4 separate regions of the Homo sapiens genome follow, and regions 1, 2 and 3 are each reported to be linked to region 4. The links are microRNA targets in miRTarBase. Many come from high-throughput screens and were not tested one by one. Region 4 holds a microRNA gene; each other region holds the end of a gene's coding sequence.

Region 1 (3,696 bases), not on the chromosome of region 4:
TATGCTGTTGTGCATATGCATAAATACATGTGGGGAAAGGCTTGGACAAAATGCAAACCCTCAGACTGTGCACCGAGCCCTCCAAGAGGGAGGCAGAGGATACTGGCTAAAAGCTCCTGGGGATACCCTTGGTTATGTTTCATTTCTGCAGCCATCTCCTCCCGAGTGGATGCCCTTGTATCATCACATTCCCCTGGAGCCATATTGGCATAAGGGGAAGAGGAGGAAGAATTGAGACAGGGAAATTTCTGAGCAGCCTTTCTATGTTTTTCCTCTCCATATTCTGTGAGAAGCTTTCCAGTTCCTTGGACCCTTCTTGAAGTTGAGGACTGCCCTGATATAATGCAAGATTCTCCCTGACACACTTTGGTATTAATGGGAAGATGCTAATACATGAAATGAAAATTAATTTGCTTCAACAGTGCATTCTGAGAAACTGCTAAGAGGGAGGGAAGATTTGGTATCTAAAGGGAGTGCATAAATGAAAGAGACAAATTTCTGCCTCTATGTACCTAGAATTTGGTTGACGAGAAGAGAGCAAATGGGCCAAGACAAGGAGAAGAAGCTATAGCACAAAGCCTAAGAAAATAAATGTTCCATGAGAAGGCAAAAATGCTATGGACCTCGCAGAAGATAAGATGTTGCCTTCGGTTGGGAAGATGAGGAGAGTCCCGTAAAACAGCTGGAAGGGATTTAGGATGTTAGTAAGACATAGGCAGCAATGGAAGTGTTTGAGATGTGTGCAAAGGCATGAGCAGGAACATAGAGGGAAGAAATCCAACGTGTTGGAGGTGGCTAGTTGAGAAAAGAAGTTGGTTTTGATAGAATCTGTCTTAGCTAGGTTTATACCAGAAAGCAGAGACTGAGACAAGGGTTTGCATGCAAGATGATGACAAGTGACCCTAGGGAACATGAGAAGGGACTGGGGAAATTGAAACAGGGAAGTGAGAGAAGTCAATTCAGGATGTATTCTTGAACTTAGACCTGCCATGGGTGATTATGTCTCAATACTGCTGGGATCCTCTGAGGAACCATGAAGAATGAACGCATCTCAGAATTGTCCACCTGTGGGATGGATAAGAGAATTTGCTCCTCACCCACTCCTATTCCCCATTGGTCAAGGGTTCCCATGAAGCAGCTCTCTCTCACATCCAGGTTTATGCATGTGTGAATTCCAACTAGTTTCCAGCAAGTGTCCTTCCCTATGTTATCTTGGGAGCCCTGAAGCTGGAAGAGAGAAATGTTCAATGTTGCTGAGATAATACACTGCCAGGTTACACTGTCTCAAAGTTGGTTGCACGGCAATGACTGGAGTAAAAGGCCTGCATACAGCATGTAAGGTGGGGTTCAGGAGTATCCCAAAGAGAATGCGGGGCACTGAAGCAATAAGAGATAATGCCAGAAGCATAGTTTTGGGGACAAATTATGCCTGGCTGAGAAATTGGAACTTAGCAGTGGGTACCCATTGCAAGACCCAATATGCCTGCTTGTCATGTGCAAAGAAGGACAAGTTCTCTTGAGAGAAGACAGCCTGTTATGCTCATGTTCATGCTCAGGATATTATGGTATATTTATTGCAGTATACATGTACTTGGTTAGTGGATTTGCAGATTATATTACAAACTTTAATTAAAATAACTCTCACAAAATGGACAACTGGCTTAAAAGTATCCCTATAGAGGAGTGGTAGATTGAATGTACACTAACAAAATTCCAGAAAATATGAATAATAACAAGGAAGTATCATAGCTGATGCTTCTTCTTCCAGCAACTTTATAAAGTAAAAACAAAAAAACATTCAGTTCTAGAAGTTGTCTGAAAGAAATTAAAGCCAATATAAATGATTTTTTAAAATATGGATTGGTTTACATTCACCATGGTTAGCAATTGATCTTAACCAAAGTACAGTTGACCCTTGAACAGCATGGGGGTAGCAGTACAGTCAAAAATTCATGTATAACTGTTGACTTCAGAAAAACTTAACTAATAACCTGCTGTTGACCAGAAGCCTTGCCAATAACATAAACAGTCATTTAACACATTTTGTATGTTATATGTATTATATAATGTATTCTTACAATGAAGTAGGCTAGAGGAAAGAAAATACTATTAAGAAACTCGTAAGGAAGAGAAAACATATTTATTATTCATTAAGTGGGAGTGGATCATCATAACAATCTATCCTCATTATCTTCACATTGACTGAGGAGAAGAAAGAGGAGGGATTGTTTTTGCTGTCTCAGGGGTGGAGAGGCAGAAGAGGTGGAGGAGTTAGAGGGGGAGGCAGGAGAAGCAGGGACATTTGGTGTAACTTTTATTGAAAAAAATCAGTGTTTAAGTGGACCTGTGCAGTTCAAAATCGTGTTGTTCAAGGGTTAAGTGTATACACTGTGTGTCAAATTATTAACGAATGACATTAAGAATTCATTAGGATTAGAAAGACATGCAAACCTTTAATTTCACATTCATCTCATTCTTCAGCTTTATCTTTGGGGCACATATTATAATGTTTTATTGAAGAAGTTGTATGAACAAAATGTCATGAATCCACATCTCTACATCATGGGTTGGCAAAAGGAATAGGAATGGAAGGTTGCATGAAGCAGCATTTGGGGGGTTGACTAAACTGGGCATGGCAGCTGAGTGGATGGTGGGGTAAGATCAAGAAAGAATGGAAAGTGATTTTTAGGTTTCATCTTGGGATAGTGACATTCGAGTGAGGGTCTTGGTACAGAAATGGATGTTTGGAGGAGGAGGTGGCTTTTGGATAGTAAGAATGAGGTAAGCTATGGATGGGCTGAACTGCTAGTGAACTCAGTCGCATAATGATCTGTTAAGATGACTCTGACAGCTTGATTCTCTATCCTGGAACCAGCCACCCACAGCCTAGGCTGGATTTATTCCACAGAATCTAAGTAGAAGTTAGTGTTATTAGTTATGCCTCTCTCCTTGGTGAGAAAGATGGGCTGTCCTGATGTGGTGGAGGTGGCTATGAACCAGCCAGGGTAAGAGACTGACTGAAAGACAGAAGTGGAGCCTTCTTTATTGTGGAAAAAGAGAAAGGGCTTCTGTGCTTTCTTCTCCACATACAGGTCCATGATATTTTTTTCCTGGGGGTGGAAAAGAGGCTTGTTAGAGAGGAGGATAGGAGGAGGAAGCTAAAGTAACTCAGCTCTGAGTGTGTAACAGGAGAGGGACTGCTGCCCCCAAAGGAAGGGACAGAGGCTAGGGACAAAGGCAGATGAAGCAGGGCATTAGAGTGTTAAAAACGGGAACTCACTGGGTTCCCATAGCCTGGCTCCACCCCAGGATCCTCTGACACAAGGTGCTCTGACTCTTTGAAGCATCACTGTCTTCCCTGGAACAGAGGGAGGTTGAAATCTCTTTCTTGGTGCTTTTGATATGCATTTGTCTGCAGGTTCAGGCCAGTCTTGCTGCATTCTCAACCTCCAAGTGGGCTTATGCATTACAATTTCCAACAATAGCAGAAGAATTAGCTTCATAACTACAATGTTGCCTTGGTAAGAGTTATGTGTTTATGGTACACAGACCATAACCACATTCAAAATCTTTTTGTCTCCTCTGCTGTGCAGTCACCTTTGGTGTAGTGAGAGCATCCCGTTGTCTTAGAGGATTTCCAGAATGCAGTTAAACAGGACCGAGAATGGAGAAAATACTGTTCTTTGGCTTTTCTGA
Region 2 (3,000 bases), not on the chromosome of region 4:
AAAACTGGCCAGCTGTGATGGCATGCCCCTGTAGTCTGAGCTACTTGGGAGGCTGAGGTGGGAAGATCGCCTTGAGCCCAGGAAATTGAGGCTGGAGCTGTGATGACACTAGTGCACTCCAGCCTGGGGAACAGAGTAAGACCATCTCCCCCACTGCCCGCTACTCTCGCTACCAAAAAAACAGCAAAAGCAGGCTAGACTCCTCTAATTTCAGGGAGAGCTAGATGTTTTTTTTTTTCTCTTTTTTTCAGTTTTGCTCTGCCGCCCAGGCTGGAGTGCAGTGGTGTGATCTCAGCTCACTGCAACCTCCACCTCCCGGGTTAAAGTGATTCTCCTGCTTCAGCCTCCCAAGTAGCTGGGATTACAGGTGCCTCCCACCATGCCTGGCTAGTTTTTGTATTTTTAGTAGAGATGGGGTTTCACCATGTAAGCCAGGCTGGTCTCAGAACTCCTGGCCTCAAGTGATCTGCCAGCCTTGGCTGGGATTACAGATGTGAGCCACCACGCCCAGCCTCATTTTTTTTGAGACTGGGCCAGGGAAGGGGGCAGTGGGCCAGGGACTGTCTCTCTCTGTTGCCCAGGCTGGAGTGCAGGATCGTGATCATGGCCCATTGCAGCCTCTACCTCCCGGGTTCAAGCAATCCTCCCACCTCAGCCTCCCAAGAAGCTGGGACCACAGGCATGTTCCACCACACCCAGCTTATTTTTGGTAAAGATGGGGTTTTGCCATATTGCCCAGGATGGTCTCGAACTCCTGGGTTCAAGCAATCCACCCAGCGTTCCAAAGTGCTGGGATTATGTTGCGAAAAGCTGAGTGTTGGGAGAAGCTGAGGCAGGGCTTGCATTCTGACATAATGTAAAAGAGTCTTGGAATATGTCCAGGGTCAAGGGTCTAAAACCCCTTGTGGTCTTTGGAACACCAAGCTCTGTGCTAAAGGGTGGAAGGCTGCCCTGACGCACCATAATCTAAGCCCAGGGCATAAAATCCCTCGTGGCTTGGATAAAATCCAGGGCCTGTGGCTCTGGAATGTCTAGACTTGCTGGCTCCTTGCTCTCCCAGGATCGACTGTAACTTGAGTTAAAAGAACCTGCTCTCCATCATCTCAAGTAGCAGAGCAAATGCTAAACCATCACAGCTGTAAATCATGTGCTTAATGCAAGGTGCCCTTCTGACCTTCACATTCTCACCATCTGTTTCTTTGTTGGATTACCAATAAATAGTGTGGGCTCCCAGAGCTCACGGCCTTCACAGCCTCCACCATCCCGATGGTCTGCTGGTCCTACTTCTCTCTCAAACTGTCTTTTTCTCAATCCTTTGACTCCACTGGACTTTGTCACCCCCACGACCTGGTGTTGGGTCTGGTCACCCTAACAGGGTTACAGATGTAAGCCACTGCATCTAGCACCCACATTATCTTTGAAAGCAGTTGAGTCTTTGGCATGCAAGAACATTCCTGCACTGCAGTGAATCTGTGAACTTACTACTACGGATGCATACCAATTCACAACCAGTGAAAGGCCACGTACCTAAAAAGGTGTTTACTGCCTCAGAATATACTTGACAATTGTGGAAACGTTAGCAATCTACTCTTCCAAGATTCCTTGGAGTTGTCATACATAAGCAAATCCATATGGACTGAGGAATAAGGAGGAAGAGGATAAGGCTTATGGAAGATAAATCATGTTCTTGCCTCCGGTAGGTAGGATTCAATTTAGTCCCTGTATAAATGACTCCATGTTAATTTCCCTTCCCATATGGATGCTAATCCAGTGACTCATAAGCTTAGACCAACAAGCTCAGCATGAAAGCCAAGAAACTTCTGTTTCTCCTAAATTCCGTAGCCGACTCTCATACAGCGAGACCCTCACTGGGCCACTCTGGGAATGACTACAAATGAATATGATGGAGTCCATGTGAATAATGGTTGAGCAGGTGAGGAAAAGGGTCACATCACAGACCTCAAGTCAGACCCACTGATTTGGAAAGCCAACAGTATACTCAGAAGCAAAGCAATGTTATACTTTGTTTTTTCTGAGACAGAATCTCACACTGTCACCCAGGCTACAGCACAGTGGGGTGATCGTGGCTCACTGGAGCCTCAACCTCTTGCGCTCACTTGATCCTTCCACCTCAGCCTCGTGAGGAGCTGGGAGCACAGATGCATGCCACCATGCCACACTAATTTTTTTTTTTCTTTTGTAGAGATGGGGTTTTACCAAGTTGCCCAGGCTAGTCTCAAACTCCTGGCCTCAAGCAATCCTCTCACCTTGGCTACCTAAAGTGCTGAACAACCACAGAGAAGCACTCTATTTTTCCCTCTATTACATTAGCAAATACACAGAAGGACAATTTAGAAACAGATTATACCCAGGAACATATGTCAGGATTACTTATGGAGGTTTTATTATTTTTATTTATTTTTGAGACTGAGTCTTGCTCTGTCATCAGGCTGGAGTGCAGTGGCTCACTGCAACCTCCGCCTCCCAGGTTCAAGCAATTCTCCTGCCTCAGCCTCCCTAGTAGCTGGGATTACAGGTGTCCACCACCATGCCCAATTAATTTTTGTATTTTTGGTACAGACAGGGTTTCACCATGTTGGCCAGGATGGTCTCGATCTCGTTGACCTTGTGATCCGCCTGCCTCGGCCTCCCAAAGTGCTGGGATTACAGGCGTGAGCCACCGCCCCTGGACTACTTATGGAGGTTTTAAAAAATCTTTTAAGTCCAGGCCTGACGTTTAGAGAAGGTTACAAAGGCGGCCAGGATCTGAGTATTTCCAAAAAGCTCTGGAGGCAGCATTGAGGTTTCCTTCCAGTTGAATCACTGACTTTAGGTCGACTGGGGTACTTTGGGTTTTTTGGGCCATTTTTTGGGGGTGTGGGAAGCTTTTCTCACAGATTTACTAGGAGTGGTGAAAAACTTGGCCTCTGGCTTTTTTGGAGTCTGTCTCGCATCTTTTTTCCCCAGCGAAGGACTTTTTTCCTTCACTGCCTCTTCTTT
Region 3 (3,696 bases), not on the chromosome of region 4:
CCAGGAGGTCCTCAGTCAGGAGCGCCCAGTGGGGGCAGGAGGCTCCTGCCCTTTTGTGTCTCCCAGCTTGTTCAGACCCAGCTTGCATGGATCTAGTGCCAACTATTTGCCAGGCCCTGTATCAGGTGCCTTCAGGTGTGTTTTCTTGTTTAATTCTTATAACAACAAGCAAAGATTATCCCATATGTTAAGGTTATAGAAGCTTAATATCAGAACAGCTGGCAGCCCCATGGCACCAGGAACAGCATAGGATGCTCCACCTACGGCAGCTCCTGGATTTGGGGAGGCTTCTGGAGGCAGAGGGGTGAGTGCCCAGGTCTCGGTGTCGGCCCCTGGCACTCCTCCCTGCAGTCCAGCATGGCTGCTGCTCGCCCCGTGCCTGAGCATTCCCACATGGGTTGTAGGTACAAAGCCGAGTGTGCGGTGTGTGGTGGGTCTGTGTCACTGCCTGTGTCTGACCCTTTCTGTCTTGCAGTGGTATTGAGCACGCTGCGGCAGCTGAGCACCTCCACCTCCATCCTCACAGACCCGGCACAGCTGCCAGAGCAGGCGTCCAAGGCTGTCACCAGGATTGGCAAGAGATTGGGAGAGTCCTAGCTGCTTAGCTGGCATGTGGCCGCATGAGATGCCAGGAGACCCTTCCCTGCCCATGGAGAGTAGGCTGCGCCCCCCAGCCCTTCCTGACGCTCAGCCTCGGGGCCTCTCTCCAACTCTGCCGGCCCACCGTGGCATCGGGAGGCCATGCTCAGGTCTGAAGCAGGTTTGGGGCCTGCTGACAGCAATAGCCCGCCTTTGGGAACCCCTTGCTGTGAACTCTCTCACTCAGTGACCTCAGTCACCAACCTCCTCTGCCCTCGGGGCAGCCCACACAAAAGGGAAGTGCTGGCCGTGCTGGTCCTGCCCTGCTGGTGGCCTGCCGGGCCTGGCGCCGGTGAGCGGAATCGATGGGATGAGGGTGACAGGGCCTGCTCCTGTCCTGAGGCCCAGCCTTGTCCCTCCTGCCACGTCCTGTCCACATGCATGCCTCTGCCTGATGCCCTGCTCCACTCTCTGGTCTGCCCGTGGGGCAGTTGGAAGGCGTCTTTCTTTCTCCCCTCAACTCTGACAGCACCCAGCCCTTGTGGATGGACTTGGGCTTCTATTCAGGCTTATGCATGGCAGGCTGCCAGGGGGAAGTGCCTTCTTCAGAGGTCCTCCAGGACACATGTGTGCAGAAACGGTGGATGTGGAACACACAGGACCAGAATGGAAGCGTGTGATGCACGGTGGCTGCTCTGGCTGAGAGGCCCTGCTGGGCATGTTTCATCTGTCCCCTTTTAGCTCCACCTGACATTGCAGGATCCATGGGGACTCAGCCCAGGGCCTTCTCGGATGTCACCTCACCGCTGTGGCCCTTCTGCCGTTCTTCTCCACTTGGCTCCAGCTGCAGCTGTTGACAGATCAAGCATGTCCTGTGGGAGCTTAGAACCCTGAAGTTCTAGTGTCTGAAAGATCAGACTCCACGTCCTGCTGTCAGCCTTGTCATCTTGTCTGATGTCTTTCAGCTGGGAGCCCCAAACCAGGACAGTTCTCGGACCAAAGATGCCCCCACACTCAAAAGTCTGTCCCGTCTTGTGTTTGGAGAAGGAAACAATGTTGGCAGGCAGCACTCTGTGGTGGTCAGCCCTCAGAGCTGTTTCTAGGCATCTCTCAGATCAGACAGCAAAGAATCTACCCAGATCTGGGCTGGGTGGAGGTGTGGCTGGGCTGGGGGCCATTCTGAGCCTGCAGTGAGAGTTTGGCCCAGCCTCAGTCCTTGCTCTTCTCTGGCTACCTCTGCAGGGAGCTGCAGGGGCAAGCACTCTCTCCAGCACTCAGGAAGCCCGGCCGAGGGTACCTCCTCGTGGAAAGAATGCACTTTAAAGCTCTGCTGAGGAGTTCGGAGCCCAGGCTTTCAGGCGACCTCTGCCCTCCCTGCCTCTCCTCACCCTCCCTCTCTTCCTGCAGGGCCTGGGAAGGGCTTTGAGGGAGCCTGGGAGCCATGTGAAGAGGGGCACGCCTGGGCTGTCCCACAGTTTAGATCCAGTTGGAGGTTCTCCCTGGCTCCTGCAGGCCTGCGGGGATCTCTCCCCACTTCAGGCCTCCGGCCAGCTGCCTGCCCTCTTGTCTGTGCTTCAGCCCTGCACAAAAGCAGCTTGGTGACACCACTCAGCCACCCAGAGTACGTGTTTACAGGCTTTCCAGATCACCTTCCTGTGGGGTGAACGTAATGAGGCGGGGCTGGTCCTTGGAATTTCCCCTGGAAAATGGTAACAGACTCCATCCTTGACCCGGGGATGAGCATGAAGGCATTGTCCCAAAGGCAGAGGCCACCGTGGTAGGAATTCCACCAAGGCCAGAAGGGAAAAAGGAAGAACCCACCGTGTCTGGCTGTGCGGGCCCTGGGGAGGGTCGTGAGTGCAGCCCCTCTCTACTTCTGTGCCTTTGTAAAACGTGTAGATAACCGCAGTGGTTGGCTGAGCCAAGAACTCTCCTAAATCAGTGGCTTTCTCCCCACCCCTTGCTGGGGAGTCATTTTTAAAAAAATCTGTGGGATATAAAATTGGCCTCCTGCTGCTTCAGCCTACCTCTCCCTCTGCTGACTTAATGTCGTGATTCTGTTTCTTCAGATATTTAAGGCTGTTAGGTTGTGTGAGCCTTGAAGTGTGTGTGTGTGTCCCAGCGACTGTCCACTGTCCAGGAGATGCATGTCTTTGTATTGGAGATATTTCTGTAACTCATTCTCTTGGTGCTCACGATTGCCATGGCCATAGGGCCACAGTGCCGTATCTGCTGCAGACATGATTGTTTCTTGTTCTAGAGGTTTTCTTGTTTTCGAATCTTGCCTGATGAATCCAGCCAGACCAAGGGGCCTAGATTTGACCTCTGTCCTGGGCTCCTGGGCCAGGTGCAGGAACATCTGAGGCCACTCTGCTGGCCACCTCCAGTGGGTGCTGACCACAGGATGGGCTTTGTTTACACTCATTTTCACCCTGATTCTTGCCCCCACTTTCATAAAAGAAACTTCAAAATGCTGACGCTTTGGAGAGTAAGAAAATCAATCTTGGCTGGGCACGGTGGCTCCTGCCTGTGATCCTAGCACTTTGGGAGGCTGAAGCTGAAGGATCACTTGAGCTCAGGAGTTGGAGACCAACCCTGGCAACATAACAAGACCCTGTCTCTACAAAAAAAAAAAAAAAAAAAAAAAATTTAGCCGTGTGTAGCAGTGAGTGCCTGTGGTCCCAGCTACTTGGGCCTGAGGCTGGAGGATTGCTTGAGCCTAGAAGTTGCAGTGAGCTATGATCATGCCACACTGTACTCCAGCCTGGATGACAGAGTGAAACCCTGCCTCTAAATAAAAGAAAATAGAGGCAGACTGTGGTGGCTCACGCCTGTAATCCCAGCACTTTGGTAGGCCAAGGCGGGTGGATCACCTGCAGTCAGGAGTTCACAACCAGCCTGACCAACATGGTGAAACCCTGTCTATACTAAAAATACAAAACATTAGCCACGTGTGGTGGTACACGCCTGTAATCCCAGCTACTCGGGAGGCTGAGTCAGGAGAATCACTTGAACCTGGGAGGCGGAGGTTGCAGTGAGCTGAGATTGTACCACTGCACTCCAGCCTGGGTGACAGAGCAAAACCCTATCTCAAAAAAAAAAAGAAGAAAAAAATAG
Region 4 (3,696 bases):
GAACTCAGACCAAGCCAATGAGGAATGGGAGACTGCATCAGAGAGCAGTGACTTCACCAGTGAGCGCCGAGGGGACAAAGAGGCACCCCCACCAGTACTGCTGACACCCAAGGCTGTGGGAACTCCTGGGGGAGGTGGAGGTGGAGCCGTACCAGGTATTTCAGCCATGTCCCGCGGAGATCTGAGCCAGAGAGCCAAGGATTTGAGTAAACGGAGCTTCTCAAGTCAGCGGCCAGGCATGGAACGGCAGAATCGGCGCCCTGGCCCAGGGGGCAAGGCTGGCAGCAGTGGCAGCAGCAGTGGAGGAGGCGGTGGGGGTCCTGGAGGAAGGACCGGGCCAGGACGAGGCGACAAGAGGAGCTGGCCCTCTCCCAAGAACCGAAGGTGGGTAGGAACAAACAAATTTATTGTGGTTTAAAAATTGGAGGAGGGGGAAAAAGCCTGAGGGAAAGATAAGTTTGGGTGGAGTGGAGATTGTGGCCTGAGGGGCCATGGGCTCTAGAATGTCAGTAGGATTTCCATGTCTGGCTAAGGCAACTGGAAAGCGGTTGGTAGGGTGTTAGAGTCAAGAACACCCACCTATGTATTCATTGCTGGTTCTTTGCTTTCCAGTCTGTGCATCTGTATGCATAGGAATCCTTAGAAGGACTCAAAAACACCTGGACTTTAATAGGGAAGAGAATAGGTTGTAAGCAGAAGTTGGGAAACATAACTTGTGGGAAAAAGTAACGATTTAGTGGATACTGGAGCTAATGCTCTGTTTTCTCCAGTCGTCCTCCAGAGGAGCGTCCCCCGGGGCTTCCCCTGCCTCCCCCACCTCCCAGCAGTTCTGCTGTCTTCCGCCTGGACCAAGTTATCCACAGCAACCCTGCTGGCATCCAACAGGCTCTGGCCCAGCTTAGTAGCCGTCAAGGGAGTGTAACTGCACCAGGGGGTCATCCAAGGCACAAGCCTGGGCTTCCCCAAGCCCCTCAGGGCCCCTCTCCTAGGCCCCCAACCCGATACGAGCCCCAGAGGGTCAACAGCGGCCTCAGTTCTGGTAAGCTGGAGGGGTTATGGGTGGGAATATCTCCATCCCCAGAGAAGGTCAAGTGCTGGAGGGAGCGGGTGGAGAACCTGGCCTAGGGACCCTGCTGCTGGGTGCGTTTCTGCAGGGAGCAAGGGTAGAAGAATTGGGAGGTGGAGTAGAGAGGAAAAGTTAGGGTCAGTGGCAGAGCCAGGCAGATGCTGACCCTTTTTCTCTTTCCCAGACCCCCACTTTGAGGAGCCGGGGCCAATGGTGAGAGGGGTGGGTGGGACTCCTCGGGACTCTGCCGGGGTTAGTCCCTTTCCCCCTAAACGTCGGGAGCGGCCTCCCAGAAAACCAGAGCTGCTACAGGAGGTAAGGGATGGGTTTGAGATTGTGCTTCACTGCACTCTTACTCGTGAAAATTCTTCTGGGTTATGTTTTCTCTGTTTTCTTTCCTGTTTCTTTCACTGTGTTTTTACTCCAGAATTCTCAGTATTAGTCTCCCATGTGTCTCCCTTGTTGTCCCCACACCCTGTGTCACCCCACTCTGTCCTGGCTTCCTATAATTCCCAATTCCCACCCAATTCATGTTTTGCTTCTGGCCCTTCTCATCTGTAGGAATCTTTGCCACCTCCTCATAGCTCTGGATTCTTGGGCTCTAAGCCTGAGGGCCCAGGCCCTCAGGCAGAGTCCAGAGATACAGGCACAGAGGCCCTGACCCCTCACATCTGGAACCGTTTACATACTGGTGAGTAAAGCTGAGTGAAAGGACTATGGTAGAAGGGTTAAGAATGAGAGGGGCTTCTGAACTGTCATCTCCTCACTTCTCTTCTGGTTGGTGCTCCCTTCTCCAGCCACTAGCCGAAAGAGTTACCGGCCCAGCTCCATGGAGCCTTGGATGGAGCCCCTGAGTCCTTTTGAGGATGTGGCTGGCACAGAAGTGAGTGAGGGTGGGAGGGTGTGTCTGAGCTGGGACTTTTTTGAGCACTGGTCATACCCCCCACCTGCTCTGGGTTGAGTCTGGAGCTGTTCTCTCACTTGGCTGTCCCCTTTCTGCAGTTTGTATGTGTGCATCAGTCAGGTATTGGGGTGCTTTCTACCCTGACTTAACTAGCTCCTTCTCCACTCCTCTCAGATGAGTCAGTCTGACAGTGGGGTGGACCTGAGTGGGGATTCTCAGGTGTCATCAGGTCCCTGCAGCCAGCGAAGTTCCCCTGATGGAGGACTCAAGGGGGCAGCAGAGGGACCCCCCAAGAGGCCTGGAGGCTCCTCACCCCTGAATGCTGTTCCTTGTGAGGGTCCACCTGGCTCTGAACCTCCTAGGAGACCACCACCTGCCCCCCACGATGGGGACAGAAAGGTAAAAGACCAAAAAAGGATAAGGGGAATGTTTCCAGGAATCTGACTTTGGCCCTACCTTTTTCTGCTTTTTCTCTCTGCGTGTGTGTTCTGGGCATTCCAATTTGGATTTCCCTTTCCCTCCCCCAATGCACTTTACTGTGTGCCCAATCCAGGAGCTGCCCCGGGAGCAGCCTCTGCCCCCTGGCCCCATTGGCACAGAACGATCACAGCGTACAGACCGAGGCACAGAGCCTGGCCCCATTCGGCCATCCCATCGACCTGGTCCCCCAGTCCAGTTTGGCACTAGTGACAAGGTCTGTGTGGGCTGGATCTGGGTATCCTGAGTTGGGTGGAGAGAAGGGAAGGACTAAAGGTGGGACATAGAGGACACATGTCTGTCACGGGACAATGTCTCCTGCCTTCTTGTGATCACAGGACTCAGACTTACGCCTAGTGGTAGGAGACAGCTTGAAAGCAGAGAAGGAGCTAACAGCATCAGTCACTGAGGTAAGTGGGAGTAAGAGTTTGGTGGAAAGGCCCAAGATTTCTGGGGAAGATTGCTGGGAGTGACCAGGGCGTCCAGGATGCCAGACATCCCTCTCCACGAGGCCTCTCCTTCCCAGGCCATTCCTGTATCACGAGACTGGGAGCTGCTTCCCAGTGCTGCTGCCTCTGCTGAGCCACAATCCAAGAACCTGGATTCTGGGCACTGTGTCCCGGAGCCCAGCTCCTCAGGCCAGCGCCTGTATCCTGAGGTTTTCTATGGCAGTGCTGGGCCTTCCAGTTCTCAGGTAGGCCCCGCTTCCCATTGCATGACCCCTTCAGTGAATAATAATTTTTTTCTGCCTGGTATGTATTTATAATCAAGCCTTTCTACGTTGCAGAGTTGTGAGATACCACTTTGTCACATCATTTTTCTCCCTACTTTTTGCTTCTATGGGTGGGATGGTGATCTTTTTTCTTGACCACAGATACTAAAGCTGTTTCAACCGTGCTCCTCTCCTGCAGATCTCTGGGGGAGCCATGGACTCTCAATTACATCCAAACAGTGGAGGCTTCCGCCCTGGGACACCCTCACTGCACCCTTACAGGTAAGACTCGATGCCTGTGGATCACAGAAGTACTTGGAGATGTGTTTCGGGGAGAGGGAAGGGGAAGACACAGTTCTAGGGTACTAGAAGCTAGTGGACTTAAGGCATTGCTAGGACTCTGGCTTCCTAACAGCTTTTCTCCCCACAATTTATTTTCAGATCACAGCCCCTATACCTACCCCCCGGCCCAGCCCCTCCCTCAGCACTGCTCTCTGGGTTAGCTCTCAAGGGCCAGTTTCTGGATTTCTCCACAAT

Evidence for each region. The annotated mature microRNA hsa-miR-6832-5p reads AGUAGAGAGGAAAAGUUAGGGUC and lies in region 4 at 1,184-1,206, shown strand. An mRNA with a match to its seed (bases 2 to 7 or 8) in the 3' UTR can be bound and repressed. Matches are read on the target gene's strand: a 7mer-m8 pairs with bases 2 to 8, a 7mer-A1 pairs with bases 2 to 7 and ends in A, and an 8mer does both.
Region 1: the mRNA of IL36B is a reported target of hsa-miR-6832-5p. The part of its 3' UTR that is shown has no 7-base or 8-base seed match.
Region 2: the mRNA of RSL1D1 is a reported target of hsa-miR-6832-5p. Seed matches in the 3' UTR shown: 8mer at 2,199-2,206 and 7mer-m8 at 406-412.
Region 3: the mRNA of MLXIP is a reported target of hsa-miR-6832-5p. Seed matches in the 3' UTR shown: 7mer-m8 at 2,447-2,453 and 8mer at 3,197-3,204.

Annotation. Positions count from the first base shown.
Region 1 is chr2:113,025,006-113,028,701 of GRCh38, forward strand. It overlaps IL36B (interleukin 36 beta), which reads right to left. Exons shown (of 5, transcript NM_173178.3): 5 at 2,428-3,110. The coding sequence ends at 2,898. Among named protein-coding and RNA genes, the nearest start is that of IL36A, 21 kb to the left of the region's middle.
Region 2 is chr16:11,834,958-11,837,957 of GRCh38, forward strand. It overlaps RSL1D1 (ribosomal L1 domain containing 1), which reads right to left. Exons shown (of 9, transcript NM_015659.3): 9 at 1-3,000. The coding sequence ends at 2,830. Among named protein-coding and RNA genes, the nearest start is that of BCAR4, 7.6 kb to the left of the region's middle.
Region 3 is chr12:122,141,216-122,144,911 of GRCh38, forward strand. It overlaps MLXIP (MLX interacting protein), which reads left to right. Exons shown (of 17, transcript NM_014938.6): 17 at 476-3,696. The coding sequence ends at 597. Among named protein-coding and RNA genes, the nearest start is that of IL31, 31 kb to the right of the region's middle. RefSeq lists a silencer at 1,274-1,474.
Region 4 is chr6:31,632,609-31,636,304 of GRCh38, forward strand. It overlaps MIR6832 (microRNA 6832), which reads left to right and starts at 1,179; the gene lies at 1,179-1,250. It overlaps PRRC2A (proline rich coiled-coil 2A), which reads left to right. Exons shown (of 31, transcript NM_004638.4): 16 at 1-384; 17 at 771-1,039; 18 at 1,251-1,381; 19 at 1,628-1,757; 20 at 1,864-1,949; 21 at 2,145-2,369; 22 at 2,524-2,664; 23 at 2,786-2,857; 24 at 2,974-3,141; 25 at 3,359-3,441; 26 at 3,601-3,696. RefSeq lists a silencer at 2,071-2,234.